2 linked regions of the Homo sapiens genome follow. The protein of the gene in region 1 purifies or fractionates together with the protein of each later gene. This does not show direct contact. Each region holds a gene or a part of one and is shown on either strand. Other genes may lie near its edges.

Region 1 (3,500 bases):
ACAGACTGAGAGAGGCTAAATTACTTCCCCACAATCCTACTGCTAGCAATCAAAAGGTAACATTCAAAGCCTATCTACTACCAAAACCTATGCTCTGCCTCCTTCATACAAGTGTCAGCAAAGAACCTGCTGTTAGGCAACGAGCCAGGAATTAGGCAATAAAAGTAAGCAAAACAACAGACGATGCCCCAGCCCTCATGGAGTTTACTGAAGGCAAACATAATAAACAAATATGTACACAAATATATAATTACAAATGGTGGCAAACTGCAGGGGCTCTGAGGACACATAACAGAAGGATCTCATCTATTCTGGGGGGAAGCGGGGGAAATGTCAAGGTGGACCCTAAAGTAAGCAATGCTTAAGACCTAAAGTGAAACTGCTGTACCCTAACATAGATTACATATGACATATATATCATGCATATACAGAATATATAGATGTGAAATATATTGTTTGAATTATTTGATAACATTTATAACACATAGCTTGAGACATACATGATTCCACCTATAATTAATAACTTGATAAAAATATTTTTGTAAATATTTTTTGTAAATTTTTCAGTATTTGGATTTGGATTTCTTATATATGTGTACACATATATATGTATATACATATATACTTATATACACTTGTATTATATATGTGTATATAATATATATTATATATTATATACATATGTGTATATTATAATATATAATATATATTATATACATATGTGTATATTATAATATATAATATATATTATATACATATGTGTATATTATAATATATAATATATATTATATACATATGTGTATATTATATATAATATGCACTATGTGTGCATATATATGCATATTATACACTATATATGTGTGTGTACATATATGTATAGTATAATATACATATATGTATGTGTACACATGTGTATATGTGCGTACACATGTGTATGTGTGCATACACATGTGTGTATATATGGGTGTACACATGTGTGTATATATGGGTGTACACATATGTGTGTATACAGATGGGTGTACACATATATGTGTGTGTATGTGTGTGTATATATGGTGTACACATATATGTGTGTATATATATCAGGGGAAAATGAGTTCCTTTCTTTTCTTAAGGACTGCTCTATGTGAAAAATTTTAAACACAGGTTACTGTTTCAGAGAAAGATCAACAAATTACCTAAATTATTCACATAATGCCAATCCCAATTTTACTCTAAAATTAATCCTAGATTTTAAACTGATCTTTACAATTCTTGTAGTTTAAGGATAAGCAGCCAAGAGAACAACCTTGAGAGACAAGCATAGATACATTCTTACTCTTGCCTTCGGGTAACAATGCTGTCTTCAAGAAGTAAGTATTGCCGAGCTTCTTCAAAATTCCATTTGATCATTTAGTAGACAAATAGTGTACTTGTTCTCCTGACTCAGTCTCAAGGGACAAGGTACAAAGTATAACAGCATCCATTTTATTTTGGGTAGAGCTATGCTTTTAAAACTGAGGGTCACAACCTATTTGTGGGTAATAAAATCAATTTAGTAGGTTATGATGAACAATTTTTAATAGAACAGAATAAGAATTATTTGAGTATCATATATTGCAAGGTCAAATACTGTTTCAAAATTGTTTTCTTTTGGTTATAAGGCACACACACACTGTCATAAAATATATTTCTTACTGTAGGTCACGACCATAAACACAGTTTCAAAACCACTACTACAGACCAGAAGTTAGAATCTTACTGTCTTCTTGATGTACAGACCGACGCCTGAAAATAACAACGTATCTGAAAATTTCTGAGCATTGGCTCTTCTTTATTCTGCGAGCAAGAAATAAAAGTTTCACGGGGGAAAAACGTTGTGGATGATGAGTTTTAAGAGGATTTCATATTTTCTATTTGCATTTTTTTCTAAAAACAAATCTTTCATCTCGTTTGATCCTGTTGAGTCCAATTCATCCAGAAAATACAGCATTTCACGGTTGCCAAGTAACTGTGCACATGGGCTTAAGCTGGGCTATGTATGGCAGGTGGCTGGAGAACACCTTGGCTTTGGACCTTGACCAGGGGAGCACATGGCGATGCGAGGGTAAGGGAAGAAGGGCTTGCAGATCTGGAGCCTAAGCTGTCAGCTGGGAAAGCTGCAGCCCCTCTAGGCCATTTTTCTCATCTCTAAAACGAGACGCACAGCCCAAATGATCTTATAAGAGCTCAACTCTTGTAATTCTATAAGCAATGGCTAGGAAGTTGGATGAAATGAACACTAAGCGTCCTACCATCTGTAAGAACTTGTATTAGCAAATGTTTAAATCCTTATCTGAGTAAGAACTAAATACTTAACAGATACAACTAACTAACTCCAAAAATTGTGTGAGAAAACCAAGTTATATCTACATTTTTATGTTCCCATATAAAAAGACTTTAGGATTTTAAATAAAATAAATGTACTATCGTCCAAAAGTTCCCCACTGAAACACTAAAAAGGTTGACAATTTCTATTAATTTGACAACTCTAAACTAGCTGTCCTCTAACAAGCCCTATTCAGAAAGTTCTACATTTCAGCAGTATCTTCAAATAGCCTGCTCACACACAAAAAAGCTTCCACTGAAAACATCAAATCTGATCAGCTTTAAAGCTTAGTATCTACTTTTCTCCACAGAAGGCTTATTTTGTCTGAAATGAAATCCATGTATGAAATGCTTTTGATAGACTGCCTAATATATTCTTAATAGCTTTCCCTGCTAATTTATAAACACGTGGCATCCATATGACCCATGAAACCAATACTGCTGAGGTAGGTCTGCAAATTGCAAAACATGAACGTTCTTGTAATTCAAAAACAAAACTTCATGTTGCCTGCTAGTGAATAAATATTTAAAGGCAAAGGCACTCGATTACACAGTGTGAGATCTGCAGGGGTCTAAAAATGCACCTACCATACTCACTGCCAGTGGAATAATGTATCTTTTAAAATATAGACATTTCAAGTACACCGCTTAAAATGGGGAAAGCATTTAAACACAATATACATGTTGAGAACACAGTTCTAGATTTTAAATATTTCTATTAATGTAAAAGACCACCCTAATGTAAGTCCTGTGTTTGTTTTGTTACTGTTGGAGTTGTTTCTAATCTACATACTCTATTACCCAAGCTGAAGTAAATAGTTTTTTAAAAGCAGCTTGCTACAGCCAGCTCAGATAAGCCAGCTCAGATACCAAAAATAAATAAAATCATTTAAAATTTGGCAACAATATTCTCTTTATATCACATGGACTCTCATCAATTTCAATTTTAGTAACAATTCAACGTAAAGAAACTTAAAATTATAAATGAGCTAGTTAAGAATTTAGGCTCTCTGATTAGCTTTTTATTTTAAAATAAAATGTGTAACACGTTCATCATAAAAAGTTTTAGGAAAAATTAGTATGTATTTTTTATATCTTTTTTCTATGCACATACTTTTTAAAATGCGATCACACTGAGTATTAGGGTTTTAAGA
Region 2 (3,500 bases), on another chromosome or scaffold:
GAAGGCAGCAAGACAATCTTGCAAGGTTACTACTGGACCCCAAAACCAGCTAGGGACACATGAGACAACAAACCTGAAACATCATTGATAGAAAAAAAAGGAAGTGTTCTGCCAGTACAGCAGAAACAGCAGGTTTAACAATCATGTAATACAAAGAAAATAAATACATACCTCTTCACATATTCCATGAAAAAAGCTATCCACCCTTGTGGAGCATATGCTTCGCCACATGATCCTGCTTTGACTATAGAAGTTGGATGACTTGATGAATGCAGCTTAGCAAGGTCTTCCTTGCCAGGAATTGGCAAGGACAGATCTTGAAAGGTCTCGAGGGTTACAGACACCTAAAATTGTTTTGTGTTTTAAAAATGGGATGAACATAATGCAGTAAAACATTTCCAAGGTTAGATTTTAGACTCTAAAGATCAAAGCATGTTTAAATAAGCAAAAAAAACAAAAAACAAAAAAAAACACGCAAATTGAACTGCTTTCATAGTCATAATAGCAAAAAAAAAAACAAAAACAAAAAACAAAACACACTTGCTCTGTACCAGGTATCTTCACGTAAGTCCTGTGCAGTAGTATTAGCATCCCCATTACAATCACAGACACTGCAGCATTAAACACCCCAAATCCAGCCACTGCATCTTGAGGTCCAAACTCTTAAGCACTATTGTATTTATTTTTGAAAATTGACCTTTGATGGTAGTTTTAAAATATTTTTTTAAAAGGGTGAGACAAAATCTGGCATCTAATTTTAAATAGCTAAAAACATGCCTGATAATTCCACTTAAATATTTAGTACCAAAATAACCTACATTAAAACGACCCGATTGAAAGTTCTTAGATTTGACTTGAGATTCTAACACAATAATTGAAATCTTCTTTTTGTTTTTGAGATGTTATTTCATATTCATCATTGCACTAAAGTAAAACTGTACTTAAGAAAAGCTCAAAGAAACTTTGAAGAAGTGTTATTAAAAAATTCATGATGATTTTAATGTATGCTTTGTTATTGTCTATGAATTTGATACTACCTTTAGTATCTGAGTCCCATCCTAAACATGGAAAAATATTTACAAACCATATATGACCAAATGTAAGAGATACATTCACAGCTTTGTACCTGTGAATATCAACAGATTCCCAGTATACAAATTTCATCAGCCTGGGAGAATATGCAGGTGTTACCAATTCTTGTTGCTGAGCAACTTCTCACCTTTATATGTAACCAAAATAGATGACGAAGGATAATATGTGCCTGTCCAATGATGGGTCACCATCCTTTAAACAGGATGCTGCTACTTCCAAAAAAAATTCTACACCTAGAATCAAATTTGTGTTGATGTAAACACAATAAATGCATGTATGCTCATCAATAGCAAAGAGAAGGAATTAAACTTTTCACATCATCTTGTCACATTTTTAAAAATCATTTGACACGAATTTTCTGTGTATTCTAATACCCTCATACTCACCCTGTCACAAGTCAGACACTGCACTGAACTAATGATTGTTCCATCAAATATGTCTGAAATAACACTTCTGTATTTCTTGTGCTGTTTTTTTCTCTTTGGAGATGCAGACTGAGCTAGGATTGAAAAACATTAAAAAAAAATCAAAGCAGCTCCTTTAACATTTTTCTCTGGAATCTTTTTTTGTCTTGTCAATCTTACTTGTATATGATCTCTAGAATCCTTAAACTGTAAAAATTACTGTGTTGAAAATTTTCAAAATACTCTTCAAAAGAGCATAAGTATTAAAAAAATAAAAGAAACTAAGCAGACAAGGCTTAAGATATTTGTTGTTTTTTTTTGTTTTTTTGTTTTGAGGTGGAGTCTCGCACTGTTGCCCACACTGGAGTGCAGTGGTGCGATCTCGGCTCACTGCCAAGTTCTGCCTCCCGGGTTCATGCCATTCTCCTACCTTAGCCTCCCAAGTAGCTGGGACTACAGGCGCCCACCACCACGCCCAGCTATTTTTTTGTATTTTTAGTAGAGACAGGGTTTCACCATGTTAGCCAGGATAGTCTCGATCTCCTGACCTCATGATCCACCCACTTCAGCCTCCCAAAGTACTGAGATTACAGGCGTGAGCCACCGCACCCAGCCTGTTTTTTTTTTTAAAGTATAAATGATCCTTGGCCACCATAAATGTACATATGAGAAAATGAACAAAATTCTAAATTAGCACAAAACCACAAATGCTTCATCACTGGGATGTTTACTTAAATGTTTTACAAGTCAAAAGAAGAGGGGAAGAGGTTAGAAAGTGAGGGAAAGATGATGAAAGTCATCATCAAGCTAAAGATGAAATAGAAGGGGTTCGGTCTCCCTATCCTGACTTGAGAGCAATTCTGTTTTCACTTATTTGTTTTTGTCTCCAGGTAAGGCTTTATTTGAAGAAAAGATTCTATTATTTAAAGTTTTTAAGAGTTCTTTATATATTTCTGGATACATGTCCTTTGCTAGCTATATGATTTATAAATACATCCAACCTTATCTTTCCATTCTCTGAATGTCCTTTGTCAACAAAAATCTTTAATTTTTTTCTTTAATGGATCATGCTTTTAATGTCTTTAAGAACTCTTTGTCTAACCCAAGGCCATGAAGACTTTCTCCTATGTTTTCTTCTAAGAAAACATAATACTGGAACTCCCATATATACCTGGAAGGAATACTAAATGGTAGACACTCTGGTAAAAAGTCTGGCAGTTTAATACAACTATAAGCATTAAACAAACATAAAACCCAGTAACCCCACTTCTAGGTATTTGTCCTAGACAAATGAAAAAATGTTCTTACAAAAACCTATACATAAATTTTAGAGCAACATTATTCATAATTGCCAAAAATTGGAAACAATTCAAAAGTCCACCAGTAGGTAAATAAACAGTGGTATACCCATAAAAAATGAGATATTAGGCCGGGCATGGTGGCTCATGCCTGTAATTCTAACACTTTGGGAGGCAGAGGTGGGGAGATCACAAGGTCAGGAGTTCGAGACCAGCATGGCCCATCTCTACTAAAAATACAAAAAATTAGCCAGGCATGGTGGCGTGCACCTGTAGTCCCAGCTACTCGGGAGGCTGAGGCAGGAGAACTGCTTGAACCTGGCAGGCAGAGGTTGCAGTGGGCCAAGATTGCACCACTGTACTCCAGCCTGGGCGACAGTGAGACTCCATCTCAAAACAAAACAAAAAAAAAGAAACATTACTTGGTAGTAAAAGGAACAAACTATTCAGACACGCAGTAACATATCTGAATTTCAAATGCATTATCCTGAGAGGCAAACCTGTTTCAAAAGACTACATATGAAAAGATTTAAAAAAATCAAAAGACTACATACTATATGATTTCATTTATATGACATTCTAGGAAAAGGCAAAACAATAAGAAAAGAGGATCAAGGGTGCCAGAACATAGGAATAGAGAAATGATCTGATTACAAAGTAGTACTATGCAGGAATTCTTTGGGGTGTTAGAGCTGTTCTGTATTCT

Evidence for each region. Proteins that work in one complex are often made in the same cells at the same time.
Region 2: the proteins of MAP3K4 (region 1) and USP33 purify together in Homo sapiens (co-immunoprecipitation; one large-scale study listed by IntAct). This does not show direct contact.

The regions. Positions count from the first base shown.
Region 1 is NC_000006.12:160,998,269-161,001,768, reverse strand, and holds part of MAP3K4 (mitogen-activated protein kinase kinase kinase 4), read right to left. Parts: intron 1-3,500. UniProt on the Homo sapiens protein: Component of a protein kinase signal transduction cascade. Activates the CSBP2, P38 and JNK MAPK pathways, but not the ERK pathway. Specifically phosphorylates and activates MAP2K4 and MAP2K6.
Region 2 is NC_000001.11:77,721,853-77,725,352, forward strand, and holds part of USP33 (ubiquitin carboxyl-terminal hydrolase 33), read right to left. Parts: intron 1,592-3,500; coding exon 1,479-1,591; intron 345-1,478; coding exon 172-344; intron 74-171; coding exon 1-73. UniProt on the Homo sapiens protein: Deubiquitinating enzyme involved in various processes such as centrosome duplication, cellular migration and beta-2 adrenergic receptor/ADRB2 recycling.